2 separate regions of the Homo sapiens genome follow, and region 2 is linked to region 1. Evidence: fine-mapped expression QTL. A gene starts in region 1. The other region holds a variant in brackets. All regions are shown on one strand. Distances are from middle to middle. Region 1 holds the start of KCNG4 (potassium voltage-gated channel modifier subfamily G member 4). Region 2 overlaps ADAD2 (adenosine deaminase domain containing 2).

Evidence for each region. PIP is the estimated chance that this variant, and not a neighbour inherited with it, causes the effect.
Region 2: its variant is the best candidate, but not a certain one, in a credible set for the expression of KCNG4 in prefrontal cortex (GTEx, PIP 0.51).

What each region holds. Positions count from the first base shown.
Region 1 is chr16:84,237,113-84,242,502 of GRCh38, forward strand. KCNG4 (potassium voltage-gated channel modifier subfamily G member 4) reads right to left here and starts at 2,900. Exons shown (of 3, transcript NM_172347.3): 1 at 2,558-2,900; 2 at 1-413. The coding sequence starts at 373.
Region 2 is chr16:84,197,152-84,202,500 of GRCh38, forward strand. ADAD2 (adenosine deaminase domain containing 2) reads left to right here. Exons shown (of 10, transcript NM_001145400.2): 10 at 1-15. Among named protein-coding and RNA genes, the nearest start is that of ADAD2-AS1, 2.8 kb to the left of the region's middle. The variant C/T (reference allele first, on the strand shown) is at 2,839.

The DNA of each region.
Region 1 (5,390 bases):
TCACGATCACCCCGAAGGCGCTGGGGCTCCTGTCGAAGAAGAACTCCTGGCTGTCCTCGTCGTAATCATCGCAGAGCTGCACGATCTCCTCGTAGCTCCGACAGAGCCTGAGTTTGCTCAGGCGGCTCAGCGGGAACCGGTCCAGTGTGCTCCAGGGGAGGAGATACCTCCTGCCCCCCACGTTGATCAGGATCTCCTTCTTCAGGTCCACTGGGGAGGCGTCCAGGGCACCCACCTTCCGCACCCTCCGGTAGTAAAGGCCCTTGATGGACGGCGTCTCCATGGGGCTGGACAGGAGCTGACTCCAAGGGCTGTGGGAACCATAGTGGTGGTGTCTGGGATGCAGGCCCCCGTCTCTGGAAGGCATGGGCATTGCTGAAGACCACCAGGTAGGAAGCGCTGGGTTTACCAGTCTGACACCCAAGGGACAAAGAGCAAGCAAAAGGAAGGGAAATCAGTCTTGGGGCAAAGAGTCCTGGATGTCACGACTGCAGATGTTCTTACGTGTGCTTTCCTGTGACTGCATCTGCATGGCTTGTTCTTTTAACCTTTAGTTCAACACATATTTATTGAGCACCTACTATGTGCTTGGGATACATCAGTGAAAAAAACCCTTCCCTGGTGGAACCTCTACCGACATCTCAGAAGGATGTCTCCAGAATAGACGTTGCACGGATGGGGGCTTGAGTAATTCAGTCCTGAGCTGGACAAGTCGGAGCGGTGCCACTTCTGGGCTCTGTGGTCTCAGGTATGTGGCTTAACCTCTCTGATCTCAGCATCATTCATTCAAATGACAAGACTCATACTAATCTTGCAAGGTACAGGTAGTAAAAATAGAGCTTAAGAATGTAGGCTCTCAGGTTCACTGGCAGGGACCGATCCCTTACAGACTGCCAGCACAGGTGGGTTACTCAGTGTCTCTGAGTCCTTTGCTTTATCTGTATGACTGGGGCAGTCTGAGTGCCCACATCGTAGGGCATGGCAAGGGTTATATGCAGTAATATACAAGAAAGTGTGTATTAATAATACTTCTAGATGCTTCTGACATGCCTGGCTTCCCCTAACTCACCTCAACAACCTCATGAAGTAGACATAAGAGCTCCACTTTATAGATAAGGAGGCTGACGCACGGAAGGTTTGCGTGTCTTGCCTACTGTTTAGCAAGCACCTGACATCAGGAAGGTTCAGCGAGGGTCTGTTATTAAAGGTTCGAGTAGCCCAGGAATGTGACTATGCTTAGCGAGCATCCAAGCATCTAGGTCTCAGGAGGAACTCCACCAGTCTCGCTTAATCCCTCTTGGTCGCTTCCCCATTTGGGGAGGCCTTTGCTAAGGGGACGGAGGAGCATTGCGTACTTGCAATCACAGTACTCCTCCATGTTCGTTGCGTGCTTGCCTCAGCCATCCTTGCTGTGTGACCTCCAGCCAGTTACTCCCCCTCTCTGGGCCCGCAGGCTTTTATGTGCAGAATGAAGGGGCCTCCAGCCGCAGTGGTTCATGCCTGTAATCCCAGCACTTTGCGAGGCAGAGGCAGGCAGATCATCTGAGGTCAGGAGTTCGAGACCAGCCTGGCCAATGAAACCCTGTATCTACTAAAAATACAAAAATTAGCTAGGCAAGGTGGCATGTACCTGTAGTCCCAGCTACTCGGGAGGCTGAGGCAGGAGAATCGCTTGAACCCGGGAGGCGGAGGCTGCAGTAAGCCGAGATTGCGCCATTGCACTCCAGCCTGGACAACAGAGCGAGACTCCATCTCAAAAAGAAAAAAACAAAAAAAAATGACGGGGCCTCTAATGCTGTCTCCATTTCAGACCTATATGAGGTGCTTGACTTAGTGTGAGTGTTTTAGATTTAGCCACTTCACATATTTAAAAAGTCCTTTTCATAATATTTCTCACCTTCAGATCCTGCAACCATTTCTTATGCTATTCATTCTAGCCAAAGCCATTTCCAAAGCATCTATAAGCTTACATTTTCAGATGCACTCCACTCCAATCAAGAGAAAAACTCGGCAGTGGAACGGAAATCAAAGTTCCTCTCAATTTCAGAGCCGGTTGGATTCCGGTGGATAGTGGAGAGTGAATCGTAACCTATTTCACACTCTTGCTCCCTACACAACATTCTGTTGCTCTGAATGCATTACTTTGCTCACAGGGAATGGCCAGAGGAGGATGAGGAGCCTGCAGAGAGAAGAGTATTTTGAAATCTGGGGAGCCCTTTGCAAGCTTCCTCATTTTCCCAGTGCAAAAACCAAGACCCAGCGAGCGGAAGTAACTTGTCCAAGGTCACACAGCAAATCCGAATCCAACCCAGCACTCTGTCCCCCAGCCTGGGGCTCCTTCCAGAACCTGAAAACTGCCCTTTCTGCATTCACTGAATAAACCCAATTTTGCCATCTACGGCTCTCCAAACAGCTGGCAAACAGCTCCTTCTGGAGCACGGGAAAGGAATTCACTCAAACCAGCACTTTTGCCAAGGATGTCTAACAGCGTCAACTTCCCCCTGGCCCCCGCCCACCCTACAGCAAGCAGTAACTCTTCCCCTCCAGTTTAACTCACCTTCTTGTCTCAGGGAGCCAGTTTCCAGCTGTTTCTCTGCCAGGCAAGGGGAGCCCATCTCTTGGTGCCCAGGGAAGGGACAGGTTTCTGGTGGAGATGAAGGGGAAGAAAAAAATCCCCAAAACAGCAGTTTCTAGCAGAGTCAGTTTCCAATCTTTCTTCCCGTGCCTCCTCCAGAAACCAGAAGTTCATTCATTCTGCATCTCTCTCTCCAGCAGCTGCAGGAGAGCCCTGGGGGATTGAGGTGGGATTTTTTTTTTTTTTTAAAGGACCCAGAAGTCCCTTTCCTTATGAGAGATGAGGGTCTGGGGGTTCTTGCTGGGAGGGAGCCAGGGCAGCTGTCCTGGTTGAGCAGCGGACTCTGCACTTCAAGTCCCACGGGGACAGCCAGTGTGGGGGGGTGTGGAATGGGAAGGGCTTAGAAATAATCTCTCCATCAGCCAGCAGCAGGAAGAAGCAGCAGCCGCTGCCACTCTGCCAACCGCCTAGGAGGCAAGGGGAGCTGTCCTCCCTCCTCTGGCATGGAGGAGCACAACTCGGGAGGAGCAGAGGGCAACTTGGGGCCGGAGGCATCTGCAGCTACCTGTCCCAGGCACCCCAGAGTCTCTCGGGGTATGCTGATGATGGTGACAGGCTCAAGTTGAAGCTGCAGGAGGAACTTTTTGCTGCTTTTAAGCAGCCCAGGCCTGGGACAGGTTCAGACAGAAGCCCAGGCTCTGAGCGCTGGGTGGGAGTCAGGGGGGCTGTGTTACAGAACAGCAATAGGAAGAGCTCCGAGCTTGGAATTCACACACATGCCTGGATCCTGGCTCCTATGTGAAAGGCTGGGTGACCTTGGCCAGGTGAGTTAGTGCTTCTGAGCCTCAATTGTCTTGTCTCTAAAACATGGGAATGAGAGAGGGTTCAGGGAAGGTCAGAACCATAAGTGCAAGCTCCTGTGCTGGTTGGATGGTTGGGTGGGTGAAAAGGAAGAGGCATCAGTCCAGGGCCTGGGTGTGAACTTGGACTCTGCACTGCCTGGCTGTGTGTTCTTGGTCAGTCACTTCCCCTCTCTGGGCCTTGGGTTTCTCAGTCAAATGAGGACAGTGAAACCAGCGATGGCTGCAATTGTAAAACCAGCATCTTGTAGTTGCTCACTACACGTTGACTGTTCTTCACTTTCTTAAGAGGTTTTGCAGCCCAGGCTCTTGGCTTCTGAATGTGTTATCTTCACTGCATTTGATAGTTGAGGCCCTGAGAAGAGGCTTGCTCAAGGTCATCTTGCTGGTTAGAACCATCACTTAGGCCGGGTGTGGTGGCTCACAGCTGTCATCCCAGAACTTTGGAGGCGGAGGCGGGCAGATCACAAGGTCAGGAGTTTGAGACCAGCCTGGCCAACGTACTGAAACCCTGTCTCTACTAAAAATACAAAAATTAGCTGGGCATGGTGGCGGGTGCCTGTAATCCCAGCTACTCGGGAGGCTGAGGCAGGAGAATTGCTTGAATCCGGGAGGCGGAGGTTGCAGTGAGCTGAGGTCGCGCCACTACACTCCAGCCTGGGTGACAAAGTGAGACTCTGTCTCAAAAAAAAAAAAAAAAAAAAAGAACCATCACTTAACAGACGCTTGAGTTTTGATGGGAGGATCCAGGAGTGAGGGAGATTAGAGGGTGAGCCTTCCACAGCTGCCTGCAAGGGGATGACAGGTGCTGCTGACCTAGGTGGGCTCTCTGTGGCCTTGGCAATGGGAACGAATCCAAGCAGAGAAGAGAACTGACTGAATGGAGGTCCATCTGGTATTGCGGTTTTCAAATGGTATTGCTTGAAGCCTTAGGGCTCTGCAGAAATGATTGAGGGGCCTGGCCTGGGGCAGTGACAACGGGGAGGATGAACCCCTGGACCTGCTACCTCAGCCATGGCAGCTGCACTCTGATCTGTCTCCATAAGACTGTAAGTGTAACCCCAATAAAGGCTGTGGCCCAGCATGGTCCAGTGTCCACACAGAGCCACTCAAAGAGATCCCAGAGCACCTGCCAGTAATGGAGAAGTTTCCTTCCCTCCTTCCACTGACTCCCGTGTTCCTCAGACCCCACAGCTGCTCCAATGGTGCTCTTAGAAGAGTCTTCAGAATTGTCTTTCCAGCTCATGATTCCTCCTCCTACCCCAGCTGTCTCCCCACCTCTCTCAGCTGTTTCTTATTTGTCTGGATTTAGCCTTTCTGGTTAAATCTCCCCTAACTTATCCCCATTCCTCTCAGTTCTCTCTGGATCCTGAGTATATGGGTTCAAATCAAGAATTTACCAATTCCCTGCTGGGTGACCTTGAGCAAATTTCTTAACCTCTCTGTGCCTTAAATTTTTTTGTCTGTGACCTGAAGATGACAGCATCTATCGATTTGTTGTGAGTTTTGAACAAATCAATTTACATTGATAAGGCTCTTAGAAGACTGCCTGTCACAAAAGTGAGTCCTATCTATTCAAATGCTTGCTATTATTATGATTATCTTTTTTTTTTTTTTTTTTTTTTTTGAGATGGAGTCTCGCTCTGTTGCCCAGGCTGGAGTGAAGTGGCAAGATCTTGGTTCACTGGAGCCTCCGTCTCCGGGTTCGAGCAATTCTTGATCCTCAGCCTCCTGAGTAGCTGGGATTACAGGCACCTGCCACCATACCCAGCTAATTTTTGTTTTTTTAGTAAAGACAGGGTTTCCCCATGTTGGCCAGGCTGGTCTTGATCTCCTGGCTTCAAGTGATCCACCTGCCTCTGCCTCCCAAAGTGCTGGGATTACAGGTGTGAGCTACCGTGCCCGGCTATGATTACCATCTTAGCAATTTTTTTTCCCCAAATTACCCAAGAAAG
Region 2 (5,349 bases), 40 kb before region 1:
GAAGTATTTCTGGTTCCTGTGTGTGTAGTTGGCTGTGTGTGTGTGTGTGTGTGTGTTTATGTGTTGGGGTGGCCAGGGGCCCTTTGTTTGCGGAGAGAGCCCCTCACTCCTCCTTTGGGAGGCCCTGTGTTCACTGGGTTCCCACCTGGATCCTCTCACTGAGCCACTGAATTGTCACCCCCGCCCCTGTTCACAGGGCTGGAGGCAGGTTTAGGAGGGGAGGTGACCTCCCCTGGTTCCTCCTGTTTTCCAGCCTGTGTGCTGGAGGAGACCACGGAGGCCACGGGTTGCGGGTGTTGTAAAGGGTGGGAGGGCAGGCTGCTTGGATGTGTGAGCATTTTGTCCTCTGGCCGCTATTGGGGCTCCAAATCCTTGCCTTTCTGGGCCCCCAGGATGTGTGGGAGGGCAGAGAACACCCTTCCCTGGTCAGAGCTTTAGCTGCCCTGGCCCTCGAGGGTGCTGTGGGGTCTGGGCAGCCCCATGTTGAAGGGCGTGGGGAGGGCATGAGCAGCATCAGTGCTTTCCCTGGGCCGCCCGGCTGTTGGACCTGGGCGAGGCATTGGACCGCTAGAGCCTGCGTCTTCCACCATGGAGAGGGACAGTGCTCCTGCCCTGTGTGGGCTCGGCAGTTCTCTCTCCGTTTCCCCCAGGGTAGCATAGTAAGGCCACATGGCACTCAGGCACTCTGTTGACTCTGGATGGGGAGAGAAGATGGTAACACTAAAAGCATGTGTGCGTGCACACTCGCACACACACCTGGAACCTCACCAGCATGGGCACTATAGCCGTTGAGCCAGGAGCACAACAGCTTTGAAGTCCAGGGACCTGGGGCCAGGGACAGTAGAGGACCGTGGCCAGCCCTGTGACCCCCACCCTGTGACTCCCTCCCTGCATCCCTAGCAGTTGCAGGGTTCAGAACCACAGGCTACTCTCCCATGTGGGGTGTCTCTGGGAGGGATTAGCATCTAATTATGGGGCTGAGTAAGAAGATGGCGCTCCCCAGTGCAGGCAGGCACCATCCAATCCACTGAGGGCCTGCAAACAACAAGCAAGCAGAGGAAGGTGAATTCGCTCTCTCCCCTTGAGCTGGGACATCACAACTCCTGGGTCTCTGGCCTTCAGACTTGGACCAGGACTCATAACATTGGTTCTCCCAGTTCTCAGGCCTTCGAGTTTGGACTAGAACGCCACCACGTGGGCCCCCAGCACTCACACAGCAAATGGTGGGACTGCTTCGACTCCGTATCGTGTGGGTCAATGCCTCGCAATACATCTCTATATATCCTGTTGGTTCTGTTTCTCTGGAGAACCCTGACCGATGCAGACAGCTCACTCCAGAGCTGTCACTCAGGGCCAGGCCTAATGTTGAAGTCGTGCGATTGGGTCCTCTCCCTCCAACCCCCTTTTGTCTCTGCCACTGGGTGTGTGTGGCCGTGGCCACGGGCAGCCACTTAACCTCCGTGCTTGTAGGTTGACTCATCTAGAGAAATAATCAGAGGGCTGGTCCCAGGGGTGTGTTCTTGGCCAGCCTGCCCATCTGCAGGCCTGGGCTTTCCGTCTGCTTTCGCTGGGCTCATCCTGTCTCCTTTCCCCACAGTGACGATGAAATGGGAGAATCTGAGGGAGGTGGGGTAGAGGAAACAGCACCAGTGGACAGACTAGACAACTCCAGCACGCCTGAAGCATGGTGTGTCTGTTCTGTTTTAACCTCCCACAGCTTGCCATGATAGATGCGATCATTGCCTCAGTGTACAGGTGAGGAAACTGGCAAGGTGCAGTTAGGTAACTTCTAGAACACCCAGCACCTGAGGTGGGCTGGAGCTGTGGTGATGTGCAGGCCGCCAGGCTTCCAAGCCCTTCGATTGCAGCCACCACCCAGGGCTGCAGCTGGATTTCCTTACGTGACCTTGGATGAAACTCTGAACCTCTCTGAGCCCCAGTTTGCTCATTTATAAAACAAGGACTAGGTGATATCCTTCCTAAGGTTCCCTCGCGTTCTCTGCTCTGCTCTTTCCCGACTGCTGCAGGAGGTCAGGAGGATGCCCAGTGCTATTACAGGGAAGAGCTGCAGGCTGGCAGCCTGCGGGGAGGCGAGTCTGGAGCTGGGGGCATCAGGCTGGGAAAACGGCAGGCGGGAGGGCCGGAGAGGGGAGCTGAGAGGCAGGAGGAGCTGCAATTCACATGTGCAAAGGACAGGAGGTGAGCCCTTGCTGAGGGAGGAGGACTACAGAGAGAGGCGTTTGCACCAGCAGGAAGGGTCCGCGGGGCCGGGAAAGCCAGGAAAGCACCGATTTCTTGTTTGAGAAGACAAGGATTTTTACCTTTAGTTTTTGGTTTTTTAAAAAAACAAAAAAACAGAAAACACTTCTCAGGCCAACCTTGAAATAATGATTTCTCGTGGCTCTTTTTTTTCAGGGATTAAGAGAGGGGGGTTTAAGAACACCCAAGCCTATTAGCCTGTGTATTACACATTGTTTTCCCCAGGAAATAGTTTACATTGATTTACTTTTTGTACTGTAGTAGTAACTACAACCAAATCTGGAAATATACCAGCCATTTCCAATTTCAGTTTGATGCAATGAGCCTTTTGGTGTTCATTAATCACATAATCACTGGATAAACAAGTTTTTCAAATCGACATTAACTCTGTTGTGTTCCGCCAAATCAGTAATATTTGTCCCCACGTTGCATACATCTGCTTGTCCAGTGCTTTCCTCCCAAGACAGTCTTTTCGTGACATCAGAGTCGCTCAGTTCTTTTGACTCAGCTTGTTCATTACTGCGGGGTGATGATGAAAGCTACTTCTGAAATGCGGATCTGTTAATGTCTAGTTGGCCG[C/T]ATCTCCTCTGGGTGTAAGTTTTACCAACAGTAGCATATTTGAATTGGGAAGTGATGTAATCTCACTTGGCACAAGTGCTGCCTCCTCCGAGTGCCATCCCGTCACTTCCTCCTGCAGCTCAGGGCACCCTCTGTTCCGTGCTGACCCATGTGTTGTCTTCACTCTGGGACAGAGTGTGCCGAGTGGAAGTGTGGACCTGGGAAGTCTCTGGGAAGCCAAGGCGCCACTCTGCCTCCCCAGTCCTCAGCTTCCCCACTTGCCAACTGAGACAGGATCACAGACATGCAGCCTGCAGGGCCATGGTGAGATGAGGGGGGAAGCGTGCCTGGCACTGTTCTTGGCTCTCTCGGCAGCCCTCAGCAGTGACTGTCATCAGGCCTATCTGCCATCAGCTCCCAGCATGGGGCCTTGTGCATTTATCTCCATCTCCTCCTGGGGGGGTCTCCCACATAGAAGGTGCCCAACAAACAAGCACTGAATGGAAAATTAGTTAGAGGATCACTTGCAGGAGTGTAACCTACCCCTATATAGAGAGAGACCAGAAACCCCGTCCTCAAAACCCTGTAGAAGACACTTTGAAAATTTCCACTGTGCTCTGAGCCCTTTTCCTATGCCCTGGAGCAGTCAGTGAGAATCTAGAGAAAAGTTAGTGAGAGTCTAGAGGAAAGTAAATTGTTACCTTGCCTCATGGTTTAGTGGTGAAATTACCTTTTTAAAAATTATAGTTTTAAAAGATACATATATATTTGAGATTTATCTATCTATCTGTCGCCCAGGCTGGGGTACAATGGAACGATCTCGTCTCATTGCAATCTCAGCCTCCCGGGTTCAAGTGATTCTCCTACTTCAGCCTCCTGAGTAGCTGGGACTACAGGTGCCCGCCACCATATCTGACTAATTTTTGTATTTTTAGTAGAGATGGGTTTTCACCATGTAGGCCAGGCTGTTCTCAAGCTCCTGGCCTCAAGTGATCCACCCGCCTCGGCCTCCCAAAGTGCTGGGAATACAGGCATACGCCACCGCGCCCGACCTAAAAGATATTTTTAAAATCGATTTTCCTGGGTATCCAGAGGCAGCAGGATGAAGTACCCTTCCCTCTGTGCCATGCACAAACATTAACTCAAATTGGATCACACACCTAACACAAGAGCCAAAACTGCGAAACTCTCAGAAGAAAACATAATAGTAAAATTTTATGACCTTGAGTTAGGCAAAACTTTCTTAGATATGTCATCAAAAGCATCATGATAAATGAAAAAATAGAGAAATTGGGACTCCATCGAAATAAAACCCTTTGTGTTTCAAAGGGTACCATCAACAAAGTGAAAAGAAAACTCACAGAATGGGAGGATATACTTGCAAATCATATATCTGATAAGGGGCATATACCAACAATATATAAATAACTCTTACAGCTCAGTAATAAATTCAGCCCAATGAATGGGCAAAGGATATGAATGGACATTTCTCTAAAGAAGATACTGAGGCCAGGCATGGTGGCTCGGGTTTGTAACCCCAGCACTTTGGGAGGCCAAGGCAGGTGGATCACCTGAGGCCAGGAGTTCGAGACCAGCCTGGCCAACTTGGTGAAACCCCATCTCTACTAAAGATACAAGAAAAAATTAGCCTGGCATGGTGGCAGGTGCCTGTAATCCCAGCTACTTGGGAGGCTGAGGCAGGAGAATCGCTTGAACCTGGGAGGCAGAGGTTGCAGAGACCCGAGATCGTGCCACTGCACTCTAGCCTGGGTGACAAGAGCAACATTCCATCTCAAAAACAAATAATATTAACAAAGACGATACTCAAATGGCAATAAAACACATGCAAAGACGCTCAGCACCATTAGCCATCAGGGAAATGCACATCACCATGCTAATGACAGCCGGGGGTGTTGGTGTGCACATGTGGTCCCAGCTACATGAGAGGCTGAGACAGGAGGATCACTTGAGCCCCGGGGGTCAAGGCTGCGGTGAGCTATGATTCTGTCACCCTGTACTCCAGCCTGGGTGACAAAGTGACCTCCTGTCTTAAATAAAATGTGGTATCACTTTACCCCCACTAGGATGGCTATAATAAAAAAGGCAGATAATAGCAAGTGTTGGTAAAGATATGGAGAAATTACAATCTTCGTGCACTGCTAGTGGGAATGGAAAATGCGGCAGCCTCTGCAGAACACTTAGGCAGGTTTTTTTTTTTTTTTTTTTTGAGACGGAGTCTCGCTGTTGCCCAGGTTGGAGTGCAGTGGCGTGATCTCGGCTCATTGCAGGCTCCGCCCCCTGGGGTTTACGCCATTCTCCTGCCTCAGCCTCCCGAGTAGCTGGGACTACAGGCGCCTGCCACCTCACCCGGCTAATTTTTTGTATTTTTAGTAGAGACGCGGTTTCACCGTGTTAGCCAGGATGGTCTCGATCTCCTGACCTCGTGATCCGCCCGCCTCGGCCTCCCAGAGTGCTGGGATTACAGGCGTGAGCCACCGTGCCCGGCCGACTTAGGCAGTTTTTCAAATGATC